Regions from separate parts of the Homo sapiens genome. Here region 1 is linked to region 2. The links come from fine-mapping of genetic effects on gene expression. Tissue or cell type: whole blood. Region 2 holds a variant in brackets; the other region holds the start of a gene. All regions are shown on one strand. Distances are between the middles of the regions.

The links. PIP is the estimated chance that this variant, and not a neighbour inherited with it, causes the effect.
Region 1: RHOXF1-AS1 starts here. The variant in region 2 is fine-mapped to the expression of RHOXF1-AS1 in whole blood (TOPMed, PIP above 0.99).

The regions. Positions count from the first base shown.
Region 1 is chrX:120,031,376-120,039,462 of GRCh38, forward strand. It overlaps RHOXF1-AS1 (RHOXF1 antisense RNA 1), which reads left to right and starts at 4,861. Exons shown (of 5, transcript NR_131238.1): 1 at 4,861-5,157.
Region 2 is chrX:120,138,611-120,146,719 of GRCh38, forward strand. RHOXF1-AS1 (RHOXF1 antisense RNA 1) reads left to right here. Exons shown (of 5, transcript NR_131238.1): 3 at 388-509; 4 at 5,113-5,290; 5 at 7,028-8,109. Among named protein-coding and RNA genes, the nearest start is that of RHOXF2, 16 kb to the right of the region's middle. The variant C/T (reference allele first, on the strand shown) is at 5,046.

The sequences.
Region 1 (8,087 bases), 110 kb before region 2:
GGAATAAGGAGTTGCATGTTCAGTGCTAAAGGTAACCAGATAATATGAAGATCTGTAACCAGATAATATGAAGATCTGAAAATGTATAACTACTGTAAAGATAGTGATATTCCATGTATATACAGCAATTCCACAGATGACATCAGGGTCTAGTAAGTAAGAAAAAATCATTTTTGATATTGATATTTTATCCAATTTAACATTTGTTCTGATGCTGACTTTAAACACACCTGCACTGTGTGATTTATGTTGTCCTCATCATACAAGGCAAGGTTTACAGAAGGAGGGAGGTGGCTTTCATGCTGAGAGTGATACTCTTTTATTGTACTACTCCATGTTAATTAGGCAATGACTTGTTACATGACAAACTTCATGTAATACAGCCTCTAGTCTTTATTTTGTGCTTCACAGATCTCATTTCTCTGGAAAGGAAGAAAGAGAACGAGTAGTTGTATTTCTATTACAGACAGTCAGGGATATAGAAGACTATTAACAACATTACTAAGTCTATTACTAAATCTGTCAATGTGTAGTTCTGATATCTTTCCACTTTGCCTTCGGAGGAGAAATTACACACTAAGTTTATGTCCTTAGATGAATTTCACAGCTGAATAGTGAGGGACTGCAAAATAACCGGTGAAAATGAGAGTTGGTCAGAATCAGCATTAGGGTCTGAATTTTTCACCTTTCTTTATGGTATATGCTATGGAAAATATCAATTAACTTGTAACTTGAGCTTTACCTTTTTACTCTATTGCTAGGAGTGAATCATATTACAACTATTTGAAGCTAGAAGACTGTAGTGGTGCTGTGTATCTTGGATTTCTCTTGATTTTTTGCAAGTGCAGTTAGCCAGAAGGTTTTTTTATTTTTTATTTTATTTTATTTTATTTTATTTTATAGCAGTTCTGACTGATGTGGTCCAGCTACCCTCAGAGCCACTGACCTTGGGCCAATATGTTGCCTACTCTTAAGTATTTTGAAATACTGCATGGAAAAAAATGTCATTTATTTGGTTGTATTACTATATTTAATTAGTTGAATAGATATGGTTAGTTTAATTTGTTAACTTGGCTAGGTGATGGTACCCAGTTATTCAAACACTAATCTAGATGCTGCTGTGAGGGTATTATATAGATGTGGTTAACATCTATAATCAGTTGCTTTAAGTAAAGGAGACTGTCTTGGATAATCTTGGTGGGCCTCATCCAATCAGTTGAAATGCCTTAAGAGCAAAACTGATATGCCCAGAGGAAGAAGAAATTCTGCCTGCTGACTGCAGCCTCAGTTTCCACCTGAGAGTTTCTAGGCTTCCCAAGTTCCCTACAGATTTTGGACTTACCTAGCTGGACCCCACAATCATCTAAGGCAATTCCTTGAAACAAATCAAATACATATATACCCTGTTGGTTTTTTTTTTTTTTTTTTTCTGAAAGAACCCTGACTAATACAGATTTTGAAACTAGAAGTGGGATGTTGCTGTACTAAAGACCTAAAATGTGGAATTGGCTTTGGAATTAGGCCATGGATAGAGACTAGAAAAATTTTTGAGAAGCGTGATAGAAAAAAACCTAAATTGCCCTGAAGAGACTGTTGTTAGAAATAGGAATATTAAAGTTGATTGTATAGAGGTCTTGGAAAGAAATGAAGAAAATGTTACTGAAAATGGGAGGAAAGGCAATGCTTGTTATACAGTGACAGAAAACTTGGCTGAACTATGTTCTTCAGTCACATGGAAAGCAGAACTTGAAAGTGATGAACTTGGATATTTGGCAGAAATTTACAGGCAAAATCCTTAAGATTTTTCTTTGTGAACCCCAAGATCTTTACCCTAAAATGGTTCTGTTGAATTTTACCCTGACAATGTAAATTGATAGCTTATCTTCATAACCTGGTTTCTCCTTGCTGCTTATAGTAAAATGTAATATTGATACAGACAGGAGACAGGGAAATACTGGGTAGAAGAGGGTGGTTTCCCAGCAAAGGCCCCACCCTCAAGTCTGGAAACCCGTGGCCCTAAATGGGAACAAGCGTTCCTGTTTTTGTGCCCAAATGCTGCCTTTTGGCCTGCCACGCCCCTGTATCCTGTACCTGTATAAACTCCAAACCCCAGGATCCACAAGCAGATGAGCAGACAAGCAGAAGAGCAGAGGAACAGAAGAGTGGTGTGGCAGAGAAGGAGAGAAGAGAAGGAGCTTCTGAACATCAAGAGGAGTTAGGCTGGGGACGGTAGGAGAGGAGATCAGCCAAGGGACGACTGAACTCCAGGGGAAGATTATCTTCCCACTCCATTCCCTTTCCAGCTCCCCATCCATCCTGCAGAGAGCCACCTCCATCCAGCAATAAAATACGCCACATTTACCATCCTTCAATTTGTCTGTGTGACCTGATTCTTCCTGGATGCTGGACAGGAACCCAGTACCAAGAGGGCACTGAGCTGTTTAACACTTAAGCTGTCCCTGGATGGCAGGGCTAAAGGAGCATTGTAACATCCCTGGATATTGCTGTAGGCCCAGAGCCCAAAAGTGCTTGCCCTAGCTCAAATGCGTGCTCCCCCTCCCATAAGGGGTTTGAGCATGCAGTGGCCAAACAGACGAGCCACACCCCTGTTGCAGGCCCTGCAAGGGGGGTCAGTGAACTCTCCCATTTCAATGTGAAAGATATAAATTGAGGAAAGAACTATTAGGCAAAAAGTAACTAGCACTTGATTTTGGAGGTTCTCAGCCTATCGTGATTCCAAAGGATGCCAAAATTAGAAAATTTATTGTCGCAAAAGCATACTCTGAAGAGAAGGCCAACAGTATGGCTGGACAATCTTGCTAAAGAGATTATATATGTGATTCATGGATCCAATCAACCATATCAGCTGAAGGCAGGAATAGAGATGGGTTTATCCAGGAAGGATCTTGTCTAATGACATGGACTCCCATAACACACACGAGACTGATAAGGATTTTGAGAATGTTATATCAACAGAAATACTGGCATCTTGGAGTAAAGGAGATAGATATGGGATGAAATGAAGGAAGACTGTTGGACTTCTGGAAATCTATAGGCAGGATATGAGCTGACAGGGCTACTAGACTGCAAAGACACATTAGCCTTCAAGAAAAAGGAAGAGTGAATTATGAGGGTGGCACAGAAGCTGGTGGATCACTGCAAGACCAGATGGCAGAACATTGAGCTAAAGAGGATTGTTCCTAGGCCTTGAAATCTAATGGAATTAGCTATGCTAATTATTTATTTATTTACTTTTTTGAGATGAAATCTCATTCTGTCACGCAGGCTGGAGTGCAGTGGTACAATCTCAGCTCACTGCAACCTCCACCTGCCAGGTTCAAGCAATTCTCCTGCCTCAGCTTCCTGAGTAGCTGGGATGACAGGAACTCACCACAATGCCCCTCTAATTTTTGTATTTTAGTAGAGACGAGGAGGGGGGTTTCACCATGTTACCCAGGCTGGTCTCGAACTCCTGACCTCAAGTGATCCACTCACCTCAGCATCACAAAGTGCTGGGATTATAGGCGTGAGCCACCACACCTGGCCCTGCCATGCTAAATTTTGAACTTACTTGGGACAAGAAACCACTTTATGCCTCCCATATTCATTCTTTTGGAATGGTAATGTCTTGTAAAAGGAAAATAAATCTCAGGACTCCAAAATCATTAAGCCAAAGGGAAAAGTCAAGCTGGGAACTGCATCAGGCAAACCTACCTCCCATTTTATTCTTAAATAAGATAGCTACAAACAAAAAAAAAAGCTACATACATGTCTCACAATTTGTCCACTGGGACATTCCTTTTGAGCCCCAAGATGTTTACCTTAAAATGGTTCTGTTGAATTTTACCCTGACAATGTAAATTGATAGCTTATCTTCACAGGTTCTAGACAAAGAACAGAACTCAAAGTCATCCTTCTGTTCATCTGAGACAGATGCATATCTGATTGCTTTCCTAATGTAAAAATGCAGATTCACTGAGCTGACAAAGGCATAAGTAACTATTCCTCTACCCTTCTCTCACATGTAAACTGTGTATTCAGTGAAAGGTTTATCAAACACTCAAAATAATGCAACCATTTGTCTGTTATCTACCCACACCTTTAATTTTTTTTCCTTTTCCCCCAATATCTGCCCTTTTGCCTTTAAATACTGAAGTCCACAAAATCTTCTTTGGAAAAAGGCATAGACCTGCCTTCCAGATGCATGTTCTTAACCTTGGTAAAATAAAATTTCCAAGTTAATTGAGACCTAGCTCAGATACTTTTTGGTTTACAAATTGGTAACCACCAAGGGATTCTGAGTGGAGGTGCCCCTGACCTTTGACAAATCTTCTATTACTGCTTGGTACCAGCTTGAGATATCTTTATTGCTCAAATCAATAGGCAGATTTGCTGAGGCCTGGGAACTTCCCCCCTCCAGACAATCCCTTGTAGCAGGACGAGCTGCAGACAAAATCTTTCAGACACTGAGTTGTAGAAGGAAGGGCTTTATTCAGCTGGGAGCATCGGCAAGCTACTGTCTTAAAATCCGAGCTCCTCGAGTGCACAGTTTCTGTCCTTTTTAAGGGCTCATAACACTAAAGATTTCACATGAAAGGGTCGTGATTGATTGAGCAATCTAGGGGGTATGTGACAGGGGCTTCATGCACCGGTAGTCAGAGTGAAACAGAACAGAGCAGGGAGTTTCACAGCGTTCTTCCATACAATGTCTGGAATCTATGGATAACATCGGTTGCTAAGTCATGAGTTGATTTTTAACTACTAGGTTTAGGCCAGGCAGGCCCAGGCCTGGTTTCAGTTCTGGTTTTGGGTCTGGTGCCTGGCTGCCTGCCCTTGGTTTCACTTCCTTGTTTTTTTCTTAAAACAGGTACTGAGTATAAAACAATATAAAACAATATGAGAGGGTCCGTCTCTTCCCTCACCCTGATCTCCCCAAATTTGGTCGATATCTAAGGTTTTTTTTTGCTGTACAACTCCTTTTCTGGAGTTTTACTCACTTTCAACAAGGAAGGTGAGTTTTCCTGCTTCCATGATGATGGAGGGCAGGCAACTCCTTTCTGGAGTTTCAGCTCAATTCCAACAGGGAAGGCGAGTTGGAGTTTTTTTCCTGCTTATAGGCTGGTAGAGAGCAGTGTTGAGCCTGGACTCCATTCCTAGGTAAGTAGCTGAATTGGGGTTTTATCTTGAAAATTCTCCTTAATGACCTAAAGTTAAGATTAACAACCAGCAGCTCTTAATTTCTCCTTACCATTAGAGTGCTCAGGAATTGTATACATAGTATGATCATTTGTTTGTTTTGCCAAACTGTTTTTTCATTTATTTGTTTGTTTTGTTGTTTTGGTCTTTTTCCCATTGGATTTGACTAACTCTACCCAACTATATCAAATGTGAAGGAAAGTTACAAATGGTGAGGAACAACGCCTCTGCATTGGGTAAATTCCTGCAGCTGGGGGGGAAAAGGGAAAAGGATAAACAGCCATCAACAGGAAAAAAGAAAGATTTTGACTACCTGAGGGGCTTTATTTACATAACAAGGCCACCTTTTGCTAGCCAAGCCAAACTGTGCTCCACACTGCAGTTCTGTAGCTAAGGTTTTGCCCTTTTTTCCACCACAACAGCCTGGGTTTGGTTCCTAAATCAAGTTCTTTCTGGTTTGATATTTGTGTTATTTTTGAAATATCAGCAATTTGTTCCAGCTAAAATAGGGTAGTGAGATTTAGAAGAATTTTTTAAGAGCTTAGTGGCTAAAAGTCAGTTTAATTAAAAGCTAATATCCACGATGTGTGTGTGTGTGTGTATATTTAAAAGGCCTTTATGGTTTTTTGTTTTGTTTTGTTTGTTTGAGAAGGAGTTTCACTCTTGTTGCCCAGGCTGGAGTGCAATGGTGCGATCTTGGCTCACTGCAACCTCTACCTCCCGGGTTCAAGCAATTCTCCTGCCTCGGCCTCCCAAATAGCTGGGATTACAGGCATACGACACCACACCCAGTTAATTTTGTATTTTTAGTAGAGATGGGATTTCTCCATGTTGGTCAGGCTGGTCTCAAACTCCCGACAACCTCAGGTAATCTGCCTTCCTCAGCCTCCCAAAATGCTGGGATTACAGGCGTAAGCCACCGTGCCTGGCCTGTTTTTTTTTTCTCTCCTAGTACCTTGTTTTTTGAGAAAAAGGTTTTTTCCTTCTCAGTCAGTCAAATGAATTCTGTTTTCTCCATTTACTTCTGCCTATCTCTCCTTTCTCTTGTTCCCCTCTGCTGCATGAGGGACCCAAAATAGTTTCTAACAGCCTGTAATTCCTTAAATAAAACAGAGAAGGCACTAGAGTCCTTTTTGAGGAGAAACATCTGTTTTTCCTTATGGAACCCCAAGAGTCTAAACAGACAAGTTCCTCTCAGATCTTAAACTGCTTGCTTTTGTACTGTGTTACCTGATTTTTGGACTAAGTTATTACAACAGAGGCTACTCTTCGGGTGTTTAAGATAAGAAAAGGTATACTTTAGACACTTAGAGGAAAGTCTTTGTAACAAAGTGCAGTGCAAATGCATCACATGGTCTAGAATCATGATAATTCTATCTTTTGGAGATCCAGGATTCAGCGTGGGCTCTGCCCAGAGCTGAGATCCAGTTAAAAGCTAGAGACTAGGCTGGGCACAGTGGCTCATGCCTGTAATCCCAGCACTTTGGGAGGCCAAGGTGGGCAGATCACGAGGTCAGGAGTTCAAGACCAACCTGGCCAACATGGTAAAACCCCATCTCTACTAAAAATACAAAAATTAGCGGGGCATGGTGGCAAGTGCCTGTAATCCCAGACACTTGGGAGGCTGAGGGCATGCCCAGCCGATGCTACACTTTTAAACAGCCAGATGTCATGATTACTCACTATCATTAGAACAAAACTAGAGGGGAAATCTGCCCCTATGATCTAATCGCCTCTCACCAGGCCCCATCTCCAACACTGGGGACTACAATTTGATATGCCTTTGCAATATCAATTGCTGCATACCAAGTTCTCTCTGTTTTGGGCCTCTGTAATAGTCACAATGTCAGGTACTGCTGGTGCCAAAGGTGGTATTACGCATTGAGCTGCCTAAAATCAGTGGTAAGTCTCCAAGAAACCAAGGTCTTGTGCACAGGCCAGATGGGGCTATTGAATGGAGAAACAGTCTCATGAAACATTTTGGCTTCCTTAAGCTCAGCAATGATGGCAATTATTCTTTTTCTCCCCTAGGCAGCTGACATTGTTTTTTGGGAAACAACAGTACTAGGTGTTGGTCATCAGATGGGTCCATGGTCTTCTATATTTCTCACTAAGATGGCCATAACTATTGCAATTCCTGTCAGGGCTTGGAGGCAAAGGCAAGTGGGGCTGCACATGGAAAACACATCACTGCCAATATTTCATTCAGTAGTGGGGGCCATGACAACGGAGGTTAGTAGGAGCCCAAAGTCAGAGAACACGATCTGTTTTCTCCTCATCTTGATGCAAGGGTTTGTGGGGATCACAGTCACCTGTGTACTGGTATCTAAAAGGCCTAAGAAGTGCAATTCCTCTCCACTGTTCAGTTGAACTCTAACCTTGGCATAGGGCCTCTGGGTCCCCTGAGTACAGAAGGATCTTGTTTATAACCCCTAAAATCTTTGGATTTTTGTTTGTAACCCCTAATCTTGTTTATATTTGAAAGCTGAGTGTCAGAGCAAAAGTTGCTCAGGATCTCTGATTTGTCTCCAAATCCACCAGGAGAGGTGGAAGGCCATCACTGTGCAGACTCTAGCGGGACCACTTATCAAATCCCCATGGCCTGGTACTTGGCCCTGAATTTTTTAGTGGGGAGCCCATCAATCTGCTTTCGTGGTTCCATTATTGAGTAATCAGACTCAGAGATCTCTTTGGGAAGGCCCTTGCCCAGACAGTCCAGAAGAGGGCACTCAAGTACTATTTTTATGCTCCCTTTTTGGAGGGGAGGGGTCAAATTTTGCTATTTTATCGGAAGCCATTTCTTCTGTGCCTGAGAATTTCTGAGTTAAGATCTGGATCACACTGCAGATTGATGGACTTGACCTCAGGAGGTGGCTTAATTGGGCTTGACA
Region 2 (8,109 bases):
ATAATAATAATAATAATGATAATAATAATAATAATAAATATAATCCAAACTAACAACAAATGTACAAGTAAAGATGCAGGTAAAACTGAATTGTCCGATTCCATTACGTCATGTGTGTCAAGCACAGCAGTAAAACAACAAACTCATGCATTTAACTTTTTAGGTTTTTGCTTTTGTGATGCCAGTCAAACATGGACATCCTGTAAAAATAGTTAATAGGGAAATAACTTCAAATGATGGCTAGCTTTGTTTAATGTTATGTTTGCCTAAAATAAGAACCTAGATCTTTTCTAAGTAAGATAAACCACTTAAACACTAATTACTGAACCTAAGTTTTAAGTTTATATGCTTTTGGTGTTTTATTTTCTTTTATTTTATTTTATTTAGATGGAGTCTCCCTCTGTCGCCCAGGCTGGAGTGCAGTGGCGCGATCTCGGCTCACTGCAACCTCCACCTCCCGGTTTTATGCGATTCTCCTGCCTCAGCCTCCCGAGTAGCTGGGACTACAGGTGCGTGCCACCATGCCTGGCTAATTTTTTGTATTTTTAGTAGAGATGGGGTTTCACTGTGTTAGCCAGGATGGTCTCAGTCTCCTGACCTCATGATCTACCTGCCTTGGCCTCCCAAAGTGTTGGGATTACAGGCATGAGCCACCGTGCCCGGCCTGGTGTTTTATTTTTATATGATATAGTGAAGCTAAATACATCTGGTTCTGTTAATGAACATGAAAAATTATACAATGAGGAAGCATATTCCTCTAGAAATTGTGAAACTGTGTGTTCATAAATTTGCTAATCTGCTACAGAACACTAGTATATGACAGTGCTATAGACTCAATGTTTGTGTCCCCGCCAAATTCATACGTTGAAATCCTAACCCCTAATGTGATTGTATTAGAAAGTGGGGCCTTTGGTAGGTTATTAGGTCATGAGGGTAGAGTCTTCACAAATGGGATTAGTGTCCTTAAGCATTCTCTGCCTGTTTCTATTATGTAAATACATGTAAAGCCCTGATAAATTTCCCCAAATGTCATTGTTACAAACCTATTTATATCTTTACTACAGAGCATATCGTGGGAAAATTTTTTATTTGAAATCACACGGTTAAGAGTTCAGAATTGGTTAGAAGAGTAGGGAATGGCTTACGCTAATATATCTACAATGACGTATTTGTGTTCCTGTAGTGTTAAGGATAGGAAGACAATGGATATTCAACAGCAGCAACAATAATATCAACAATTAATCTAAAGAAACTTACAAGAAAATATGACTAAATATTTACCCACTTTTGGCATTTGAGTTTTGCTTTCAATTATTTAAACTGGATTTCCTGAAGTATTTAATTTGAAATGTGAATATCTGCTCTCTTCAAGTGATACCTTTTTCCTTTGCTGTTTTTAATGTGTTTTCTGTAGCTGTAATAAACCATAAACAGGTGTCTGACAGCTTTTCTGAGTCCAGAAGCACAGAATGCTCTATGAAAGACCATGATCCATTCTCTCTCCTATCAACATGTTTTTGTTTGTTCTGTACCCCATTTGTTTTGTCTAGGAGCAAACACACAGAGATCTTAAGCCTATTAAAGTTGTGTTTTGGCTTAGTTTCGGTACACATATCCTTTTAATACAGCAGTTATTAAAAATTATTTTAGGCAATTAGAAAGGGTAAAGAGTTCTTGGTGGAATTTTCCATTAATAAAAAGCAGCCCCCAAACCATTTCTTTTCTAACAGAAAGCAGCCTGAAACTTCAAGCTGCAAGCATAGCTATGCAAGCTAGCTTTCATATGTAAATGCCATCAGCTGTACCTGGAAGCCAGGTACATTCAATATGGCGATTCTCGCTCCCTTTTCTTTGTGGCCACGTGTGCGGGTGTCATGGCACTAGCCAGGTAAAGTCACATGTGCAGGTGTCATGGTGACAGTCAGATAGAAGCCATAATTGCATAATAAAAGATTAGGGTTGGAGGGCCAGTCTTTTCATGGACTGTGTAAATGGAGCACCTGGTCAAACCAATCCCCTGGGCTCTATGTAAATCAATCACCGCCTCCTCAAGCCTTTGTACAAAATTGATCACGTTCTGCACCTAACCCAGAAACCCTCTCTCAGGTGACCCGCTTTCTCAGCATGAGGAAGCTTATTCTATCTCTCTTCCTTTTTGTCTGTTAAACTTTCTGCTCCTTAACCCACTCCACGTGTGTGTCCATGTTGTTAATCATCGGCGCGAGACAACTAACTACAGGTATTGCCCCAGAGGAAGTGGTTTCACTTTGAATGGTTTGGCACTATTGTCAAATATCATACTTGTTATAAGTCTTTGCAGATTTTCTATTTATTCTTGAGTCAGTTTTGGTAGTTTGTGTGTTTGTAGGAATTGTTTTTCAATGTATTAGGGCATCTAATTTGTTGAAATACAATGTTCATAGTATTTTCTTATAATCCTTTTTATTTCTGTCAAATCAGTGGTAACATCCCCTCTTCTTTTTCTAAAAAAATAATTTCAGCTTTTATTTTTGATTCAGGGGATACATGTGCAGGTTTGTTACATGAGTATATTGCATGATGTTGAGGTTTGAGATCTGAATGGTCCTGTCATCCGGATGGGATACTAGTGAACATAGTACCCAACAGTTAGTTTTTCAACCCTTGCCCCCTTCCCTACCTCCCCCCATCAGTCCCTAGTGCCTATTATTGCCATCTTTATGTCCATGAGTACCCAATGTTTAGCTACCACTATAAGTGAGTACATGCAGTATTTGGTGTTCTGTTCCTATGTTAATTAACTTAGGATAATGGCCTCCAGCTGCATCCTTGTTGCTGCAAAGGACATGATTTCATTCTTTTTATGTCTGCACGGTATGCCACGGTGTATGTGTGCCACATTTTCTTTATCCAGTCCACCATTGATAGGCACCTAGGTTGATTCCATGTCTTCACTACAGTGAATATTGCTGTGATGAATATATGAGTGAATGTGTCTTTTTGGTAGAACAGTTTATTTTCTTTTGGATGTATGCCAGTAATGGGATTGCTGGGTCAAATGATAATTCTGTTTTAAGTTCTTTGAGAATTCTCCAAATTGCTCTCCAAAGTGGCTGAACTAATTGACATTTCCACCAACAGTGTGTAAGTGTCCTTTCTTCTGCAGCCTCACCAGCATCTGTTGTTTTTTGATTTATTAATAATAGCTATTCTGATGGGTGTGAGATGGTATCTCATTGTGGTTTTGATTTGCATTTCTCTGATGATTAGTGATATTGAACATTTTTTCAAATGTTTGTTGGCCACTTGTATGTCTCCTTTTGAAAAGTGTCTGTTCATGTGTTTTTTGCCTGCTTTTTAATGGAGTTACTTGTTTTTTATTTCTTGAATTGTTTCCTTATAGATTCTGGATAGTAGGCCTTTGTTGGATGCATAGTTTGTGAATATTTTCTCCCATTCTGTGGGTTGTCTATTTACTCTGTTTATAGCTTCTTTTGCTATGCAAAAGTGCTTTAGTTTACTTGGGTCCCAATTGTCAATTTTTGTTTTTGTTGCAATTGCTTTTGAGGACTTACTCACAAACTCTTTCTTGAGGCTGATGTCCAGAATGGTGTTTCCTAGATTTTCTAGGGTTCTTATAGTTTGATATCTTACATTTAAATCTTTAACCCATCTTCAGTTAATTTTTGTATATGATAAAATGTTTGTATATGATAACCCATCTTCAGATAATTTTTGTATATGATATGTAGGGGCCCAGTTTCATTCTTCTGCATATAGCTAGTTAGCTATCTCAGCACCATTTACTGAATAGGGAGTCCTTTCCCCATTGCTTATTTTTGTCAAGTTTGTAAGAGATCAAATGGCCATAGGTGTGCAGCTTTATTTCTGGGCTCTCTATTCTTTTCCATTGGTCTATGTGTCTGGTTTTTTTTTTTTTTTTTTTTTTTTTTTACCAGTATTATCCCCTCTTTCATTTCTTATTTTAGTTTTTGATATTCCCTCTTTTGTTAGTCTGGCTAAAAGTTTGTCAACTTTGTTGATCTTTCAGAGAACCACATTTTGGATCTGCTGATAGTTTATATTGCTTTCCTATTCTCTATTTTGTTTGTCTCCATTCTTTATTATTTCCTTCCTTCTGCTAGCTTTGGTCTAGTTTCCTCTCCTTTGCTAGTTTCTAAATGTGTAAGTTCGATTATTGATTTTGCACATTTCTTCTTTTTTAATGTAGGTGTTTTTAGGTATAGATTTTCCTCTGAGCATTGTTTTTGCTGCATTTCATAGGTTTTGGGAGTTTGTGTCTTCATTTTAATGCATCTCTAAGTATTTTCTAGTTTCCCTGGTGATATCTTCTTCAATCCATTTGTTGTTTAACAGCATATTATTTATTTCCGCATATTTGTGAATTTCCCAGTTTCCCTTCTGCTATTGGTTTCTAATTTCATTTCATGATTGTGAAAAGTAAAGTAGAGGTTCCTCTTCAAAGACTTTCCTCCCCATCTAATTAGGAAGAAATAGTAACTTCTCTTAGAAGCAAAATTTATTCAAAGACCTGGGCTAACATTCTTAAATATCTGTGAGCTGTAATAAAGAAATCAATGTACTTTATGTTCTTAGCTTCCACAATTTAGCCTAAATATTTGCCCTGGCATGCTTATACTGGTCCAAGCAAGCATTAGGATAGCCTGTTCCTTTTCCTTATTTGAAGGTGTTTTTACCTTTCTCAGCATTCCATAAATTACTTCCTCCTTCCTTTGTTCTCCTCTGCCTTTGCCTCTTTTAAAAAGTTCTAAGTTGCTAGCCAATCAGGACTAATACAGAATGTGAGGTTCCATTCCAGCCAATGGAGACTGGACATAGCAGTAGGGTGGACATGTCAGGTTATAAATGACCCTGTCTCCCTTGTTCAGTGTACTCTCATGGCAGAACAGCTGGCGAGTGTACCCTTTCTGCAGAAAGTAAAAATGCCCTTGCTGAGGAAATTAAATTTATGTTCAAGTAAATTTCTTTATGGCACTGGGAAACAAGCATTTCTAACAATTTTGGTGGAAATCCGTACATGGATA[C/T]GTTCTCTTCTGGGGGCGGTCTCCAGTCCTTTCTCATGAGGGAGCACACTCCTCTGCCTCATTGCAGTGGCCTCAGGGATATGGAATTAAGATCCACCTGGTGTGATGAATAAACCCAGACTCTCAGCAACGCAGGAAAAAAAAAACAAAAACTGGCTGGCGATCTGGAGTAAAGGATCCTCACATCCACGTGAACCAGGAAACTCTGTGCCCAAATCGACGAAAAAAAAACACTGGGAGAGCCGGTAAAGTATTTCCTTGGGGTGGTTAAAAAGAGGTGAGAAATCCCCATTGGGGGGGTTAAACCTTAAAAAGAGGTAAGAAATCCCCATTGTAGGGGTTGAACCTCAAAAAGAGGTGAGAAATCCCCATTGGGGGATTGAACCTCAAAGAGGTGAGAAATCCCCATTGTGGGGGTTGAATCTCACACAAACCTCCGGTAGTAAATATATATTCAAAACTCCCCTTTCCTCTCTTCTCAGGAAAAGAAAAAGGCTAAGCTCCACTCCCACCAGTTGCTCCCCTAGGGGAAGGGGAAGGAGAGGGGGGAAAACAGCAGCATAGGTGGCTGGCAGAGGCGAAGTCCAGCAGGGAGGAAAAAGAAACCAGGAAAGGAAGTCAGAGAGAAAGAGCAAAAACAGCAAGCGTGACACCAGACAGGCGCACCAAGGGTTAAGTCCCTCTCCCCAGCCCAGCTCTATGTGAAAAAGAGGGTGGGGAACGGCGCCAGGAGGAGAGCAGAGGAGGTGAAAGGGCATAATTATTGCAACTTGCAGCAGGCATCTGCCAAGCCTCTGGGCCAGTGATGGCCCGGGGTCTGGACTGCAGCCCCACAAATCCCACCCAGCCCAAGAAACTGAGTGTAAGAAGAAAGGAAAAAAGTAAAAAGGGAAATTGGGAAAAGAAAAAAAAAGCAGATGAAACAGACGGCAGTGTGTGTGTGGGGGCGGGACCCATGCCATTGCCCGGCCTTGCCGGCCGGCAGGAGCAGGAGAACTTGGGAGGGAAAAAGGAACAAGGGATGACGGAGAGAGAGAGAAAAAAAGAGAGTGCAAATGAGAGAGAGAAATAGAGGGAAAGAATAAGTAAGAGACAGAAATCAAAGAAAGACAGAGGGTGAAACTAGGAAAAGAAATAGTGTAAAAGGAAGGCAGAAAGTTAAGACATGTTGAAGATTGTCTGTGAAAGTCGTAAGAAAGGTTATAAAGGGAATTTATGCAAGAAATATTGTATAATTTAAAAGTAATTAGGCCTCCTGAATGTAAAACTATTAAAAAAACAGTTTATGTACAAAGTATGTAAGAAAAATAAAATATACTTTTAATAAAAGGATTATAAGGAGGCATAAGAATATGGATTTTTACCTACATTAAAAGGTTTAAAAATTTTTGTTTTAAAGGTTTAAGCAAGTTTTAACATGTTAATTGTAAAGGAAATTCTGTGTGTAAACATTTTGGCTAAAGGTAAAGGGTTTATCATCCAGTTTTGCTGTGAACTGAACATTAAAATAAAACCACAATAGTTTATTCTTAAAGCACTAACCTGCTCTTTAACAAAAAATTTAACATGTTAAAAAGAGTCTATAAAAATCTTACCTTATAGTCAGACATTAAAATTGGATAATATCTACAAGATTTTATTAAAATTAAGTTTAACATTAATAGCACATTAATATAAAGGTAAAATTTAACTTACCTGGTACAAAATCATACAAAAAGCATTGTCAAATATAAAATGGTGTTTAGCTTTCTTAAGGTCCGAGGGCAGCTGGGTAAGTCACAAGCTCCTCATCCCCAAGGCCACAATGTGCAGGGGAGATGAAGGCCACTAGAAGGCCAAGACCTTAAGAGGGGGCAGGGCTGCAGCATCCTGTGAGTGGTGCTGAGCAGGAATGGAGTGGGAGGCATCACCATGGGACCTCAAGCCCCAGAATATGCAGCAAAAATTATATACTTTTTATCTTCCACTTTCCCTTCCCTCAGAACTAAAAGTCTTTTAGCACGGGTACCAGCCCTAGAATTTCCAGTACACCAGCAGCAGCCTGGAAACCACATCCTCATCAAAAGACAGAAAGAAAAAAACTCGAGCCAGCCTGAGAAGGACCCTATTTTATGCTGTTAACCACTGAGACTGCCATCCTCACAGCTGAGAAAGGATGGACCCACCATACTCAAGTCAAGAAAACATCTTCCTCGTCAGAATCATGGGTTACTGTACTAGGATTAAGCCTTACTAAGTTAAAGTTAAAGAAAGCTTAATTTTCATATACCTTCTATATTGCTTCTTTTCCTTTCCTTATTCTGTTACTAGCTCCTTTGTTATTAATGTAACTAAGTCTGAGTCACCTCAGACCATTGCCTTTTATGCTTGCTCTGTCATACCTTGTGGAAATGTAAAAGATCAATGACAGCTAGCCTTTTCACACAATTATTTATGCCTCGGCCCTCTAATTGACACAGTTACCCCTAGCACTCATCGTTGTGATCACCTGCAGCCAAGACGCTGATTTTCTGCTCCTATAGCCTGGCAACCTTGTGGTACATGGGACTACGTCCTTTAAACTACCCAGGAGCAAAGTTGGACTTCCATGAAAAAGGTTTGTGCAGATCTAAAACCTCTCATCTATTTCACTAAAAGGACTTCCCCTTCTAACTGTCACCCTTACCAATGTAACCCTGTCCTCTCTATCACCACCTCCACCTGTCTTTAACTAACTCTAGACCTGTCCTTAATTGCTTTTATGGTATTGGAATAGGAATTAAAAGAAATTAAAGAATGTGTAAGGAGAAACTCAGTTGTATGTAAGAAAACCCAATTCCCCCTGAGAAAGAGAAAGAGTTGGAGTCCTTTAAAAATTAACTGCCTGTTTTTCTGTGGCTAGTGAGCCTTATCTCTCCTCCTTTCCCAGACATTGTGAAGACCCTGTTTCTCTAGCTGTGCAGCTGCAAGGTCACTAGACAGATAAACTCAAGTTGTAAAACATGTTTTTCCTTGAAAAGTAAGAAATGCTGTAATGCATTTCTCAATTAATTAAATAACTGTCTTTGTTTCTCGCTTCTGTAAT